3 separate regions of the Homo sapiens genome follow, and regions 2 and 3 are each linked to region 1. Evidence: fine-mapped expression QTL. A gene starts in region 1. Each other region holds a variant in brackets. All regions are shown on one strand. Distances are between the middles of the regions.

Region 1 (6,042 bases):
GAAAGTGAATAGTAACAACACAGCTTAACTAGCAGTACTCTACAGTTTAATCACTAGTCTATAAACCTCACAAAAAATCACATCTGAGGAAACTTAGCCTGAAGAGAGAGAAGCTCTTTTGCTAAAATTACATAACCAATGAATCACAAAGTCTTAAGTCAGAACCAGGTAATAATAAGAAATGGTTATGGTTAGAAGAAAAAAAAGGTTTCTTTCCTATGAAAGGGTTTCCTTAACAATTTTACAGCATTCCATCCATATCTACTATGAAAGAAAAGACCACTTGTCTATGTGTTTGAAGGGCAAATTCATTGATGGCACACTGTCCTTTCACCTCTAAAATGTCTTTACATTATTCCAACAGGTCAGTGAGACACCATCATCCATACAGATGTTTTGACTACAAAAATCTACTACTCATACCTCACCAACACAGATGTCATCCCGATGCAAATATCTGTCCAAAATCTAGTAAGAGCATCACTGACCAGGTAAGGTGATTTATTAGTCACTTTTAAATAACTACATAGGAACTAATACACAGCCTACAAATAAACAGGGATATTCTGTGGTTTAAACAAATACACACACATACACTAAATAAAAATTAGTTATTCCTTAAGGACATATGGAAATCACAGTAATGTAAAAAGTTAAAAACTTTCCCATAGCTATGAACCCAATTATTGAATTCTATAGCAAGACAGGATATATGCCAGATTATCCCCAAGGAATTCCTGTCTTTTAAAAAATTATTATTATTATTTTCAGACAGGGTCTGGCTCTGTCACCCAGGCTGGAGTGCAGTGGCACGATCATGGCTCACGGCAGCTTCGACCTCCCAGGCTCAAGTGATATTCCCACCTCAGCCTCCCAAGTAGCTGGGACCACAGGCAAGTACATCACACCCAGCTAATTTTTGTATTTTTTGTAGAGATGGAGTCTCCCTTTGTTGCCCAGGCTGGTCGCAAACTCCTGGGCTCAAGAGATCCTCCTGCCTTGGCCTCCCAAAGTGCTGGGATTACAGGTGTGAGCCACCACACCTGGCTAAGAAATTACTTCATTATCACTGAGTTTATACGTCAGAAGTGTACACTCTTAAAACATAAATGATTAACAAGCTAATCCTTCCTTCCTTACATTTGGCACCATTTCAGTGACATTAAACAGGACACTGACATTCTTGCTTTAGACTAAAAATGGCTCCCTCCATCCAATTTTAACCTTCTTCCAATACATCTTCCACTCATTCAGTGATCTAAAATACAAATTTGAGCACGTCAACCCATTGCTTAAAATTCTTCAACGGATTCCCATTGCCTACAGGATAAATGCATACTCCTTAGCTAGCCGTAAGAGGCTCTTTATGATTTGGTTCCTATTTTTCTGGCCTCTTGTTCTGCCCCTAAGCCTCTTGCCCCTCACTCCTCTCCTTTGATCGCCATGTACAAAACTTGTTCCCACCCACTCAAACATACAACTCCATCATTCTGTGCTTCAGCTACACCAAACTACTTTCAGCTCTTCAAATTTGCCAAACTTTTCCTCTGGGAACAGTAGGGCATGCAATCCTCTCTACTTGAAACACCATCCCCTTCACTATCATTCTGCTCATCAGTTTAGGTATCATCTACTGGGCCTGAATTCCAATTCTACCATGGACTAAATTCTCTTCCTTCCCCTTCCCTTCTCTCCTTCTTCAACTACCCAGGCTTTCTTTGTATATCTTGCATCTCTCCTCACTTTAGCTTCTTCACCACTACTCAACCCTGGGGATGGTAAATGTGGAAGGCTTTCATAAATTTCCATAGCAAAAGGAAGAAAATAGCTAACTTAAGGCCTCTAAATCATATAATATATATGCAGAAATAAATATAAAGGAAACTACCATTCCATTTGATAGTCTCTTTTAAGAAGGCTACATATCTATATCCCTTCATTCTTTCAAAATATTCTAAATCAAGTAAATGCATGTTTAAATCTCCTTTTTATTTTACCTGGGTCACCCTCAGCAAAGTCTGCACCAAAATAGTGTTCTGAGGGATTCCAAGCTTCACTATGGCGTGAAGACTGAACAGTAGGTACTTATACTGCATGATCTTGGCTTCTCTCATCATATGTTCACAGAGCTGATTAAATGCAGGGTGGCTAAACATCAGTCGTTTTTCAAAGCGCTTCTGGTCATCAGACAGTCTTTTGGCAATTGTCCACATTGCTGTGAAATAGTTGCTACTAGGAAATGTGGGCGCTTTTGAAAATGCATCTAACACATCACTCAGGGAATTACATTCCTCAGACAGTTTTCTACTGCTGATACGGTTTGGTTTTGTTTCCTTGGTAAGAACATCTTCATTGGAGACTTCATGATTAAGGTTTACTTTCTTCAATTCATCATCAGATTTATCAACAGGGACAAGAGACTGCTTTGAGTCAAAAAACAGTCTTTTAGCATAAAGTAGTCTTTCAATTCTAAGGGCTGTTAGAGTGCTTATGCCCTTTGTTTGAAAGCCAACATCTGATTTAAAAATGAATGCATCCTGAAAGAGATATCTAATGATATCAGTTGATTGCATTCTGTTATGAAAGTTATTTAAAATGTTCCAGTTTGAATGAACTATTTTTGGTTTGCAAAGTCCCAAACAACATAGCCTCATAGTTCTGCTTGTTGAAACTAATGTACTGAATTGTCTAAGGTTCCAGAAAAAGGAGCCCGCTTTGTTATTCATTTTGCTCTCCACTGAAACACTTCCAAATGGCTTCAAAGTTGTCAACATGAAACCAACGTCACTTCTACTAGTGAAAAAGAACACGTGCTGTCGTTTTCCTGTAGGGGAAGAAGTAATGAAAAGAATAAAAATTAAAACAAAACTTTTACTTAAAGAAATGAAATGCATTTAACAGAAGAGAAAATGGGGAACCTATGGAGCCATTAAACATTTACATAAAACAGTAAAAGTTTTTTTTACCAATGTGGGCTCCCTCCAATCTACCACAATGTGTCCAGTTTCAAAGAAGCCAGGTCACTTTGGAAGTAGTCATTGTATTAATGAGATTTTTCTGGTGCAAAAGCGTTCCATAAAGCTTTCTCTGTAGGAGAGACTTTTGTTGGCATTGTTATGGAAATGTCCTCGGTGAAAATTAGGGGATTAGCATTGATAGATCATTTTCTTTTCTCTTCTCTGTTTTTTTTTTTTTTTTTTTTTTTTTTGAGACAAAGTCTTGCTATGTCCCCCAGGCTAGAGTGCAGTGGCGCGATCTTGGCTCACTGCAACCTCCACCTCCCAGGTTCAAGCAATTCTCCTGTCTCAGCCTCCCAAGTAGCTGGGATTACAGGCGTATGCCACCACGCCCGGCTAATTTTTGTATTTTTTGTAAAGACGGAGTTTCACCATGTTGGCCAGGCTGGTCCTGAACTCCTGACCTCAGGTAATCCACCCGCCTCGGCCTCCCAAGGCGTGAGTCACCGCGCCCGGCTGATAGATCATTTTCAACATGACGATTTAGCAACGGCCGAACCCAGACCATCAAGAATAGGGACCTGGGCAGGTAGAACGGCTCAGTGGAAGAAGCAGAAAACGAAAGCGATGTCTGCACGTGGCCTGCGCTTAAGAGGAAGATCTTATACAACCAGCCAGCCTCACCAGACCCCAGAACCAACTTCAAGAGCCTGTCCTTCCGCAGCTGGGCCGCCCAGCATTAACCCACCTCCTTTAAACTTACTTCCAGGACAACTCGTGAGACTCTTCTCCTCGAAGTAAAAAGTCTAGGATGTGATACGGGCTGCCGCTAAGCCCAAGCTCGTCCTCCACTCACCTTAGAGCACAAGACCGTGACTACGTACAGGAGCAGCCATGACAGCTTCCCCGAGAAGCTGCGCTTCTCACGAGATCTTACGGATTCCCTCAAAGGTCAAAAAGCATATGTTCGCGGCTGTAGCTGAAGGACTTACTTGAAGAAAGTTTACCAAGGAGAATGACTAATTTCCCTGCATACAGGAGTGGGGCTCGGGGATACCACAGAGCTTATAAGGGCGATGTTTGATCGTGTATCGCAACGTAACCCATTCAGGTCCTAACTTTAAACACCTAACCTCTGCTGGGCGCCAGACTTTGTAGTGCGCCTGCGCCTTGCCCTTGGCTGCGTGGTTGCCAGGAAACCGCGAAGCCGCGGTCCCTGCCTCTGAGTCTCTCTCGACCATGGCCAAATTCGTCATCGCGGGTGAGTGATCCCCGCGTCCGCCCGCAGATTGCTCAAAACGCCGACAACAGCTCACCTCCCATGGCCGCTCGGCTTGGCAGCCTCTATACGGACCGCTCCATGCTTTGCTATAGATTTATTCAAAGTTTTTTACTGGACCGTGACGGTGCGCCAAGCATTGTGGGACACTGGGGATGCAATGGAGGGAAACATATCCCTGCCTTAGAGGAGCTTTCAGTCTCATGGGGCACAGAACATGTACTTTTGATACGGTGTGATTAACGCGATGAAGGAGACCTGCACAGGCCTCTGGGAGCGTAGACTCCTAATCTGGGTTTGGGGGATGAGGGAGAGGTGGACACAAGGAACTGGCTGGGGAAGGTATTACAGGAGCTGAGTTGTGAAGGTGTGAGCTGAGGAGGCTATTCCAAATAAAAGCAGAGAGGCAGGAAGCTTCCTGGCCTAACAGAAGATCTGGATATGTGGGGCGTGACAGGACCTGGGGCTACAACAGGAGCAGGAGCCAGGTCCTTGCATTTCATGTAGGTCAAGCAAAGGTGTTTGAACTGTATCCTGAAAGCAATGAGGAATTATAGAAAAATTTTAAGCAGGAGAGTAGTCTTAATGAGTTTGCATTTTAGGAAGCCTGTCTTGGCAGCAACGGAGAGAATGATTGAAAGTGCTGGTTGACAGCAAGGACTCAACTGAGAAGGCTTTTATTACAACAATCCATGGTACCTACCTCCTCTCCTCGTAAAGTTTCTTAAAAGAGTAGACTGCTCTTCCATCTCCAGTTCTGCCTTCCAATCAGTCTTGGAAGAAGGCTTCTACTTCTGCTTCCTGACAGAAACTGCTGTCACCAAAGTCACCACTGACTTTTATAGAAGCTGTTTAGTCTTTGACTTATTTGATCTCTTTGATGCATTGAACACAATTGACATCTACCATCCACAGGAGATTTTTTTTTTTTTTTGAGACAGGCTCTCACTTTGTCACCCAGGCTGGATTGCAGTGGTGCAATCGTGGCTCACAGCAGCTTTGACCTCCTGGGCTCAAGCGATCCTCCCACCTCAGCCTCCCAAGTAGCTGGGACTACAGGCATACACCAGCATGCCCAGCTAATTTTTGTATTTTTGTAGAGATGGGGTTTTGTCATGTTGCCCACGCTGGTCTTGAACTCCTACGCTCAAGTGATTTGCCCACCTTGACCTCCCAAAGTGCCAAGATTACAGGCATGCACCACCACACCTGGCCCAGAAGAATATTTTTGAACACTGACTAACCACATGGTGGGAAGTCAGTGGAAAACACACAGAGAATGTTGCATGTATGACACTGACAGGGCAGGGTTCTATAGGAACGATAGCAGGGACCTTACTTAATCAGGTAAGGGTTTCCCAGAGGGAGAGATTTTAAGCAGATACCTGAAAGATGATAATGAATTACCTAACAGAGAAGAGGTAGAAAGGAGGGGAGCAATTTAGGCATGGGTAACTGGGAGTGGGGTTAGAGCAAGGAGAACTAGTTTGGTGACAATTGAGAATATAAAATAAGTATAAAATTGAAATAAGTTTATTAGGACTGAAGCAAATAGTACAAGGAAGAGAATTTCATAAGGTGAGGCTAGAGTTAGATAATGTAGATTCTTTTGAGCCACATTCAGTAGTTTAGACTTTATCCAGAGTACATGAAAGGTTTTTAGAAGGGGAGGAGGGCCTAATCAAATCTGAATTTTATCTGAATGTTACGGCTATAGTGTGGGACAAAAAGACTGGATACCAAGAAACCAGTTAGGAGACTAGTGCTATAGTCCAGGAGGGAGTTGATTGTGACCTGGCCTAGAGT
Region 2 (6,042 bases), 25 kb before region 1:
GAGCAAGATCAACCTTTTCATTAGGGATTCTGAAAAAAATATTTGGATATCTCACACAAAATGAGCATTTAATATATTTCCTAATTTTTTTCTATGTGTGCCATAGATCAGTGGTTGTTTAGGGGACAGAGAAAAAAGCAAAGACAGGAACCTTTTAGAGGTGATAGATATATTCATTATCTTGATTGTGGTTTCACAGATGTGTGTGTGTGTGTATGTACGTCAAAACTGACCTAACGGTACACTTTAAATATATGCAGTTTACTGTATGTCAATTATACTATAATAAAGCTATTTTTTAAATTATGGGAGAAGAAAACCCCACAAAGTACATTCCAGAAAGGTATTAATTTACAGTCTACCAACAGCTTATGCAAGTGCTTGCCTCATTATACCTTCATCAGCACTGTAATTCTTAAAAGAAAAAAAACTGCTAATTTGAAAGGCAAAACCATCTCTTCTGTTTCAATGTGCATGTCTTTACAAGTAGACTGAACTTTTTTCATGTTCATCAGCTCTTTGCCCATTTTTCTTTCATTGACACAAAGCAATGAAGAATGCTAACACTAGAATGCTAGTAAAAGAGGGATGCCTTTTTATCTGCCAGGTTAACTAGTACAAACTGAAAATTACTACCCTAAAAGGTGGTCATAAATATTCACAAATTTGTCAAATCCTTTGAAGAGGAGTCATAATTAGACACTCAAAACTGATGCACACTCAACATTTAAAGACAAAACCTTAGTTCCTTTAATAACAGAATATCTGCATCTTGTTCTGAAGCTTATAAGGTTAAATCACTTGGCCAAGTATACAAAACTAGAGGTTGTCCAATCTGGAACCAGAAGCCTGATCTCCTGGGACACAAGCTGAAGAGCAGGTGAGGATGAAATGATGTGGAACCAATGGCATAGCTGAGACTTCAGGAAAGGAAAATTCTTTGAGCCTTATCTTCCTCGTCCATAAAATGAGGGAAGTAACAATTAAATAATCACTAAATTTCCTTTCAGCTCTAACCTTTTCTAAATGCAAGCTGGATAAATTGATACAACCTGGCAGCTGTTGTCATATTGCTATAGTTTTTGTATTTTTTTTTTTTTTTTTTTTTTTTTTTTTTTGAGACAGAGTCTCGCTCTGTGGTCAGGCTGGAGTGCAGCAGGACCATCTTGGCTCACTGCAATCTCCACCTCCCGGGTTCAAGCGATTCCCCTGCCTCAGCCTCCCCAGTAGCTGGGATTATAGGCATGCACCACCATGCCCGGCTAATTTTTTGTATTTTAGTAGAGATGGGGTTTCACCGTGTTGGCCAGGATTGTCTTGACCTCCTGACCTCATGATCAGCCCACCTCGGCCTCCCAAGTGCTGGGATGACAAGCACGAGCCACCGTGCCCAGCCCAGTTTTTGTATTTTCTTATAAGCCTATGTTAGCTCACATTCAAACTCCAGCCCTCCCCTACTCTGTGTAGCCTTGGGCAAATACCTATCCTGATTTTAGAGATGAGGAAGTGAAGACACAGAGAGAATCATAATAGCAGCTACACCTCAAAGGGTTCAGATCATGAAAAGGCAGCACACAAATGAATACTTAGCAGTGCCCGGCACATACTAAGATGTCTAGTAATTGCATGTCTGTGTGCTTGGGGGCAGAATAACACCAACTTGCATGGAACCCATGCTGTAAGTTCCACAAGAGACCATGCCTATTCATCACTATATCCCCAGCGAGCCAAATACTAGGTAGACAGGCATATTGAACAAAATAGTTGAATTTGGACAAATATTTGAACAAAGAATGAACACACATAATCGAAAAAATAGTCCTCAGGTCTGATTCACAACACAATTCAGCTATATATTTAATTTAAAAGACTTCATGAAATTGTGGGAGGGGTAAGGGGGAAAAAAGAAAGAGAAAGGAAGGACCCCAACAACAGTAAGACTCCTTACCATCTACATCTCATCTGTGTTTCTCTTATTATAACCCATGAAATATCTCTACCTGCAGTGCTTATTACAAATACAAATACCATCCTCACTCATTTTCAACAGCTACCTCACTAATTCTTACACACTTGACAACTTTAGAACTTTGTCCAATTATTATTTGGCCAATGCTTGAAAATGATTTAAAGGCATAACCCCAAGTCTTAGAACAGCTTAGAGCAGGAGTATAAATATTCAGATTCCAAAGACAAGGACTACTACCCACATCAACCTGCCTGTGACACCTCACAACTAAGAAACCAGTTTTTAGTAGATCAAAGATGAAAAGGTGAAACGTACAGCTCACAAATCAAATATCTGGGCACTAGAGGGAATAGGTGTGGTTGGAAAAATAACCCTTCTGGAATTTTCTCAGCATATTTTTAAATGGCAGTAACAACATTTCTTCCACTCCTAAAATTAATTTTAATAGTGAACTGAGGTAACATTTTTTGTCTTAGCAGATAGCTCAATTCCATTGACAACTGACTTGTCATCTTTATTAATTTTTACAAATGCATGTCTCCTAATATGAAAAGGTTGATTTTCACTTTATTGTGTGCTTTGCACATTTACAGCAGCAACAGGAAGAGCTTCTACTGAATAGATTTTAGTCTTCAAAAATGTGACTGCATCTTCCATCTCTAGTTTGTCCATCTCCCAGTTA[T/C]TGACCTTACCAAAGAAAGAGGAAAATAATCAGTTTGTGAGACGATACTAACAAAAGAGCTAGTTTAGAGATCCAAACATAGTAAAGTAACATGAGGACAATAGCTTTTTGAAAGCAAATGTGACCTTATAACTACTCATATTTTAAAGGCATAATAAGACTACATGCTAGGGTTTAAGAAAGCTTTAACTGTGAAAATTATACAAATTTTAAAGGTCCTCTAAATGGTGCAAAAACTGCTTTCTTGAGAAAATCTTCCTTAGAATATATATAATCAGCAATATAAAAAACAAAGTCTTAAATAGTAGCCCACTAAGAGAAAGGAGTCATCTTAATCTCAATAGTCCACACGTAATCCATTTCCAATACTAAAGTATAATAATAGAAGACTTGGAATGTTTACATCTTACATTATGCGCAGGACCAAATGAGTGGCATTTAGATAGATTCCAACAGCAACATATATATAAATGTATTTGTAAGGTTCCTACTACCTAGAAACATCAGAAGAGGCTGTTCAAGAGAAGCTGTGGGGTACAAAATAAAATTGAAGCATAAGAGGGAAGAGAAAGACCCATCTTCTTAAAACCATCCAGCCTTTTCTGGCAACAAACATCCTGTAACAGCTTCACACAGGCCATGAAAACAAAGCTTTAACATCTTTCCTTCCCTTGTTCAAGATAACCTGGAAATTAAATATGGTTTTGTGTATCTTAAATATGAAAATATATTATTTGCATTCTTCTTCTTAGCAAAAAAGGATTAAAGCTGACCAGAACAACATTTGTAAAAGCTCTAGTAATGACAGTAATCAGCTGAGCAGAACCCAAATCGTGTACTAGCAATGTTCTTTTTCAAAGAAAACAGTAACTAAAGCACTCATTCCAATAATGCTGACAATTCCTCTAGTCCTAGTAACCAGTCTCAACCACAAGATTCCTGGCAGCTGTTAGAATGTACATCAGTAATTAAAGAATATTTCATTTGCATTTTTTTCTCACCAAGATCACATGAAAACCCATTGCATTCAAATGCCGCATTTTCATAGCAAGGAATCCTCTGGGGTGGCTTGAACCCAAACAATAAGCAGATCTGGAAACACATAGCACAGCTACTCTGAAAACAAAAATAAACAAAACAAGAACAGTTATTGATATTACTATTTAGTCTTGCTGCATTCTTGTTCTCTGGAGATTTCCAAGTTGAGCTCTCCACCGACCACAATCCTTGATATTCCTGTCTTAGTCCTTCACTTCTTTTACTTGGCCTCTGCAGATATTCCACTATACAAGGCTACTTTATAAATCAAAAATATACAACATTATACACAGTTACCTCTCAGTTCCCTTTAAGGATGGCTACATTTTTGAAGAGGAAAATTTTCAGACATGAAAGCACCAATTTTAAGGGTTTTCTGTGTAGTGCTGATTTCTGATCTGAGTATAATTATTTATTCTACCAGTAGTAGTAACGGTGTAAATAATACCAAATAGTAAATGCTCTTCTTACACATATCATCTCCCAGAGAAAGCAGCATTTAAAAAACAGAAATAGGAGTTTAAATACAAGAAAGAAAACACCAAGAGAAAGGCAAGACTGTTAAAATAAAATCTGTAAATATAACGAAAATGTGGAAGGTGTAATTTGTTTTTTCATTGTTCCTGGCACTTTGGAAATACTAAGTTTACTGGGAGAAAAAAAGAAAAAAAAAAGACATTTATATCCTTACTGCCTTCACCTATACTCTGGCTGTTATAAGACAAATTTTATGTTTTTAAAGGAATGCTCACATTCTTCACTTCTCATGACTTTATGCTGAGAACAACTGTTATTTTATTATGCCAGAATAGCGGAGTACCCGAAAAAGAAAACTGATCTTGGAATGAGGTCAGAGAGAAAGCCTCTTCTGAGGGGAGATGGGTAGCACTAATAGGAAAGACAGCGGTTGAAAAGATGGCCAAGAAATAAGCTAGATGCATTCAGAAAGAGGTGAAAGTCACAGAACTGTGTGTGAATGAAGAGGGATGGGCAGATAAGAGCTTGGATCCCTACAGATTTTTTTGTATGTTTCTATCATATTTATGTGTGTGTGTGTGTCCAGTGGAGTTAACAGAAGATACAAGTTCCTTGGGGTCAGGATCCATGTAGCAGAGCTTTTACATAAAGGGTAACTGACCCACGGGTGTGTGCAATGATGGCATGATCTTATGCATCTACTGAAGAGGCAGGATGTTCTCTCATGGTATAGCATCATATTTCTCCCCAGAGACACTCTATTTGTAATGTGTGAGCCAAAGAAACAACTTAGGATTAGCTTCAATGTGCTCTAACCCATACAAATACAGTTTAATTAAAAAACTACGGTTTCTCTACCTCTGGAAAAGTCTTGGTGGTAGAGCAAAATATTTATTGGGTATTTGATTTTTGTAGAAGCCTCGAGTCTTTATTCTTTATGATCACTATTATATTATCTTGTCCAAAGTCTACACTGCATTGATAGTTTCAATTATATTAATATTGTTTTATTGAACTATAGCTTCAAAACCTAATTTTAAAAAAATGTCTGTCTCATTAAATGACCAATACTGTAGTCCATTGTATTCAACCATAACGTCCACATTTACACTTTCTAAGGAGTACATTGATGGATGACAAGTCTCTTGGTGTGCTGCAGGCTCCATACAAACATCAAGTCTTAGATTTACTACTGCTATTTAATATGAAGTCTTTTAGAATTAGGATTTTAATTCAGAAAGCCCAGCAAATGAAATATATGTAAGCAACCTTTGAATATCTGTAGCAGAAGTTGTATCCACATCAGAAAGTGGTAGCACTTGATTCCTGTTAGTGTCCATTCTGATTTCAAAATCTGAAAGGAAAGAATTGATATTAATTTTTCAAACATTCCTCCAAGTGACTTTCTTTTTCTTTTCTTTTCCTTTTTTTTTTTTTTTTTGAGATGTGGTCTCGCTCTGTCATCCAGGCTGGAGTGCAGTAGTGTGATCTCAGCTCACTGCAGCAACTTCCCAGGTTCAAGCAATCCTTTTACCCCACCCTGTTGAGTAGCTGGGACTACAGGGGCATGCCATCACGCCCATCTAAGTTTTGTATTTTTTTGGTAGAGACAGGATTTTACCATTTGGTCAGGCTGGTCTTGAACTCCTGAGCTCCAGTGATCCACCTGCCTCGGCCTCTCCACATGCTAGGATTACAGGCGTGTGCCACCGTGACCAGCCCCAAGTGATTTTCTGTTTCAAAATGTTTAATAGTACTACCAATAATGATAATAGCAGTAGCTAAAATATATTGAGAGCTAACCATGTGTCAGATACTAGTCTTGGGATTTTAGACACATAAAAATGTGTAGAATTTCATTTATTGGTCACAAGAA
Region 3 (6,042 bases), 83 kb before region 1:
TTCCTTAAATCTGGGTGGGCTCTGTGACTGCTTTCACCTATGGTGTACCATGGAGATGACACAGTGGGACTTTCAAGGCTAGGTCATAAAAGGTCATAGAGCTTCCATCTTGTTTGGTGGATTCTTGGGCCATCATGTAATTCAACTACTTAGAGTTCTCTAAGCCAGAGTGGGCACATGCAGGCCCTTCTATTGGCAGTCCCACTTGAGCCAAGTTTTCTAGCCATCTCCAACAACATATGAGTGAAGCCATCTGGGGCCCTTAAAACCAGTCATTCTTCAGCCACATGCTGCCAAGTGAACCCATTAATGCCATATGGAACATAAGAATCACCCAGCCAAACACTGCCCAAATTCCTGACCAATAAAATGTTGAAATGTAATAAAAACTGTTTTTGTTTTAAGCCACAAAGTAGCAGTTGTTTGTTGCAAAGCAATATATGCCGAGAACACCCTCTAAGAGAGTTTTTAAGCTTATGGGCACAATCCGTGAAAGGGACATGAAGTCAGCTTACTGGATAATGACCAGAATTTGTTTTAACTAATGAAATAGGAAAGAATAAAATAAAAAATACCAGAATACATGGTACACAGCAAAGGTATTGTTGTAAGACACATTTCCAGTTATATATACATATGTATGTGTACCTTGGGTTCCAATGTAGTTTTCACTGTGAATTGTAATCAAAATCATTTAAGAAACATTGTATTAAAACATCTAAATTTATCATGAGAATATCCAGGAAATTGTTTATAAAGATTAGCAGACAATACATCAAAGGGGAAGGTCTATAGACATTTCCTAAGCTTTTAATTCACAGAGACATGAATCAATGCCATTTGCTCATCATAATTCATAGAAGCTTGTACTATCTCCATGTGTTCTTATAGCAATTTTTGCCATAATGTTTAGATATGGTAACTAGAATATCTGAGTCATAGTGCTTTACACTAATATGTATAAAACATTATGTTTTGAAAATAAAATATTTTCTACTATTTATTCTGACAGAGCATTCTAAAAACTAGAATAATGAACTCAGAGCCTCATTTTTATTGGTTCCTGCCCAATAACAAATTCTTGACCGGATTGAACTTCACATTTGAATTCTCTTCACTCTTGTTGGACTGATAAGACTTCAATGTCGATGCTTATCAACTCAACTAACAAAAAGCTTCCTAAAGATGTGATGGCACACATATGAGATTACAGGGAGTTTATTTTTTGGTGTGAATTAAAGATTTGTGTCTTATTGTTTTATAATAAGTTACTATAACAACTGTAAGGGAAAGCCAAGCAGCATGTTCAATAGGCTGGATCATTTCTACCATCATTTCATTATCATCCTGTTGATTTTCTTTCTCTTCCCTAGTATGCACCTGGCAGAGGGACAATAGAATTTCCACCAGGTGACCTTTGGAATAGCATTGCATAGTTTAGCACTCCTGAAATTTTCTCTAAAGATAATTGTAGAAGTCAAAAAACTGGCTTTCTATCAGAAAATCTGGTTCCAAGTCTTTATTTCTCTCATTGACTGTGATTTTCATCAAGTCAACCTCTCTTTGGGCTATTACCTTACAGGTAAAACAGTAATAGCAATTCACACCCTTCAGGGTTTTTTTTTTTTTTTTTTTTTTTTTGAGAGAGAGAAATTATGTGATATTTTTCAAAGTTGGGCATGCCAGTTAGTAGTATGACACTTGGAGGGTATTTCAACCCAAACATAACCCAGCAGATGCTCATCAGGTACCTTTGAAGCCACACTGTGTGGTGAGCAATGAATAGAACAGGCACCATCCCCACCCTTGCAGAGCTCATGCCCAACTCTGAGAGAGAGGGTAAAGAAATAAATATATCAGTAAAATTGTACTGAGTGCTACAAAGCAGGGGTCCCCAACCCCTAGGCTGTGGACTGGTACCAGTCTGTGGCCTGTTGGAAACTGGGCCACATAGCAGGAGGTGAGCAGCAGGGGCAAGCATTACCACCTGAGCTCCACCTCCTGCCAGGTCAGCAGCAGCATTAGATTCTCATAGGAGCACAAACCCTACTGTGAACTGCACATGTGAGGGAGCTAGGCTGCACGCTCCATATGAGAATCTAATGCCTGATGATCTAAGGTGGAACAGTTTCATCCCAAAACCAACCCCCCCACTCCCTCATCCATGGAAAAATTGTCTTCCATGAAACTGGTCCCTGGTGCCAAAAAGGTTGAGGACCGCTGCTATAAAGGAATGAACAAGTTGTCCAGAGAGACAAAATGCCTCTGAGGAGGTGGCATGTAGGTTTAGTTCCCACAGACTGAAGCCAATGATTAAAAAGTAATCAAAGCCAGACTCCAGTGAGACCCAGAAAACATTCTGCTCCTGGGACAGGTGAGGTGTTTGATCTCCTCATCTAGGCCACATACAGAGGAAGGGTTTATACAACACACTTGACCTTTCTAGGTGGGACCTGGGGGAAGGGAGATGTATTTAAAACCCTGAAACTTCATGAAGCATGCCACCCATGCATGACATTATTTAGGAATCATGTGTGAAGAAGGACTGTATACATATTCTGTGATAAAGATATTGAGAGTACCAAATCTGTCTTCCTGGGGCAACCCCAAGCCATACCTCTGAGACCATGGCATGAGACTTTGCAGCTTCATTCCTTCATTCCATAAACCTTTATTTTGGGCCACACGCTATACATGCCCTGGCACAGAGCTAGTCCCTGGAGAAAGATAAAGGCACAGTCCCTGTCTTCTGGAGGCTGAGATCCTAGCCCTGAATGTACAAGTAAACAGAAACGCCCAGTGGAACACATCACAATGTAATGGAAGAAGTCAGCTCCAAGTGTGATCAAGGAGGGGAGTCACTCAAACTAGTGGGGACTGAAGTTGCAGAGAGGCTTCCAGACCAGACATGCTATAACAGTACAAGGCATGAGAGAGCACACCTGGTCAGTACATTACAGGTGGTTCCATACAGATGGAGCAGGACCTCTGCATTTTGGAAAACAAAGCAGAAAAATGGGTTGGTAGAGGAGGCTGAAGAGATGGGCCTCCAATTTCCTTCTAAGGATCTGAGATTATTCCCTAAAGGTTATGAATTACTAATAAATGAGTTTTTTAAATTTGTTTGTAGAGATAGGGTCTCGCTTTGTTGCTCAGGCTGGTCTCAAACTCGTAGTTTCATATGATCCTCCCGCCTTGGTCTCCTAAAGTGTTGGGATTACAGGCATGAGCCACTGTACCCAGCCTAATAAGTGGTTTTAAACAGGTAAGTGGTGCACCTCTTTTGCACCTCTGAGAAAATGTTACCATATTTTATATTTCATT[T/C]TTAGAATTTTACATACCAAAAAATGTATAAATCATAAGCTCAATGAATTAAAAATTATATTTTAGGGGAGATTTTGCTATTCTATAGTAATTTACAGTCAGATGGCTACTTTCTCATATTTTGGTGCAACAGGTGTTCATTTCTTTCTGTGAAGGCAAATTTATACTAAAGTTTCAACTAAAAATGAAGACATTATTCTGGCCTAAACAATGATAGAACAGTGTTAAATTACAACAAGTTGTACATCCAAGGGCTGTAAAGGAATTCCAGTAAGCAAGGAGGAATTTCCATTCCTAGGTGGGGTGTGGGTGTAGGTTCATTTTGGCAAGGGGTTTGGGGCACTCTGTGTAATGAGTGTGGGTAGGAAGGTATTTCAGGACGTGTATAGAAGGGAGGTCATCAAGGCAGAGAAGCCCACAAGAGGCAGGCTTGAAACGGATTACCTTGAGGACTTGGCACCCCTCTGGAAACCCGGCCCTCTTTGCTTCCATTCATTCTACTTCCCAGCAGCAGAAGTTAATGGACTCTACCAGGTTGGGGACCTAGTGTTGCTTTGCCTTGGCCTCTGCCTCTTCCGCCATCACCAAGCAACCCATTTTGCTCTAGGTATTTTTCCACTGCCTTTTAGGTTTGCCAATAAGTTCTGCTCACTTCGGACTCTAATTCATAACCTCGCTCTCATGGCTTCTGCAGCCTCATGATGTTTCTCTGCACATAAGCCTCGAGTCCTGCTACCATCTGCTACTGCTGCTGCTGCAAAAGACAGTGTCTGATGGGAGTGGTTTGTTCACTATCATTAACCTTGCTAGGCAGAGCCCTGTGCCAGGCCACCTCGCTAACTGCAGGCCAGCCTGCATTCTGGCCACCCTGGTGTCTCTCCTGGTCCAACACCTGGGCCAGAGCAACAGGATAGGTGAGGCAGAATACAGAGTTCCCCTACACAGAAAAAGACATGGGCTGCTCCCTAGACAGAGACTGTGAGCTTGAAGCTTTTCCTCCAAGTTGGGAATTGAGGCAGACACTATATTCATTTGTTTGCTACAATGGCAACCACCTACTTTAAAGGAGTTCTCTAGCAGCTCTAGAGCCCAAAACACACAGTGGGCTCTGTGGGAAGTCAGTGTAGACCAGAGGACTGCTTCAAAGGAAGGAGTAGAATGAATCTCATTACTGAACTTTTGCCCCTTTACAAGGCTTTGTCCACACAGCATCCCGAGTGAACCTTTAAAACAATGTGAATTGGATCATGTTTCTCCCCTGTGCAAAGCTTTCTCACTGTACTCTGAACACAAACTACCCTCCCCCACAGGGCCAATAGGCACTGCCTGATCAGACCCCTGCCTCCTGTTCAAGGTCAGCCTGGAATTCTTTCCCACTCTCCCTCCAAGCTTTAGCCATACTCACCTTCCTTCTGTTACTCAAACACTATAGCTCTTTTCTCAGCTCAGCTTATTGGCACTTGCTGTTCCTACCGCCTAGAACTCTCATCCTCCAGCTCCCATGTGATTGGACTTCTTCTCATCCTTTAAGCCTCATCCTTGAATGTCACTTTCCCAAAGAGATCTGCCCTGGCCTACCAAATCAGAAACTCTGGAGATAGGCCCAGCACACACTGAACTTGGAGAACCACCAGCCAAGAGAGCATATGGAAAGAATGACAGTATCAGCCAAGGAGATTCTGAGTTCTAAGGGACTTATGCATCACTGCAGATTTATTCAGATAAATAAATAACCTGTGTGTACATTTATGCATTGTTTAAGGGATAAGAGCTATAAAGAAAATAGAATAAAGCAAGGACTAGTGATGATAGTGTGCCATGAGCCTGAAGGTTCACAAAATTTCATTCATCTATTCATTCAACAGGGCTGTGGCAGCAGCCAGGTGCAACTGGGATTGGGTAGTCAGGGAAGGCAGCCTTCATTCCTGAATCTGCCTTGAGTTGGCACATGAATCAGAGGTGCCAGAGGATCTGGGGGAAGGGGGTTCAGGCAATGTCCTTGAAGCAGAAAAGAGTTTGGTGTGTTTGAAAAACGAAAAGGAGAGCAGCATGCTTAGAGCACAGGAGCCAGGCACGGGTGAGGAGAGAAAGATGAGTGCACAGAGCTAGGCACAGTCTAGAGAACAGGCCTGGCCATGGTGAATGGTTTGGATTTCAATCCCTTGCCATGGGCAGTCCCCAGAGTATTTTAAGCAGCCAGGTGGCATGAAGGGATTCTCAGTTTTGAAAGTTCACTTTGAGTGCTGCGTGGAGAATGGATCATGAGGGAAGGAGTGTAACTGAGAATCATGTAACATACTTTGGAGACTAGCAGCATGCCCAGCACTGCATCAAACCCTTTACAAGCATTAACTCACCAAATTCTATAACACCCCATGATGTAGATACTACTACTCACCCTGCTTTATGAGTGAGACAACTGAGGCACAGAAAGGTCAGTAACATTTCTTAGGTCACACAGTTGGTAAGTAGGAGCCAGGACTTAAATCCAGGCAGCATGAATTCAGAGGCTGAGTTCATAACCACCATGCTAAATAAAATAGGCATACTCTTCCTGCCTCCCTATGACAAAGGACAGCTTTGAGCTTAAAATAGTGTGCTCTAGTAAAGTGCTTTGAATATTAAGCAGGGTACTGTGTGAATTTAACAATGCCATTATATAGTATAAATATAACTCATTAAATAACATATAATGAATTGGCTCCTAATCTTCTGTAT

The links. PIP is the estimated chance that this variant, and not a neighbour inherited with it, causes the effect.
Region 2: its variant is the best candidate, but not a certain one, in a credible set for the expression of FASTKD2 in whole blood (TOPMed, PIP 0.67).
Region 3: its variant is the best candidate, but not a certain one, in a credible set for the expression of FASTKD2 in whole blood (INTERVAL, PIP 0.70).

The regions. Positions count from the first base shown.
Region 1 is chr2:206,763,426-206,769,467 of GRCh38, reverse strand. FASTKD2 (FAST kinase domains 2) reads right to left here and starts at 3,862. Exons shown (of 12, transcript NM_001136193.2): 1 at 3,721-3,862; 2 at 1,998-2,824. The coding sequence starts at 2,774. MDH1B (malate dehydrogenase 1B) reads left to right here and starts at 4,140. Exons shown (of 12, transcript NM_001039845.3): 1 at 4,140-4,218. The coding sequence starts at 4,197. RefSeq lists enhancers at 3,592-3,971, 4,222-4,361.
Region 2 is chr2:206,788,297-206,794,338 of GRCh38, reverse strand. It overlaps FASTKD2 (FAST kinase domains 2), which reads right to left. Exons shown (of 12, transcript NM_001136193.2): 10 at 5,436-5,520; 11 at 3,653-3,767; 12 at 1-2,656. The coding sequence ends at 2,537. Among named protein-coding and RNA genes, the nearest start is that of MIR3130-1, 8.0 kb to the right of the region's middle. The variant T/C (reference allele first, on the strand shown) is at 2,652.
Region 3 is chr2:206,845,930-206,851,971 of GRCh38, reverse strand. No RefSeq gene overlaps it. Among named protein-coding and RNA genes, the nearest start is that of MIR3130-1, 66 kb to the right of the region's middle. The variant T/C (reference allele first, on the strand shown) is at 3,325.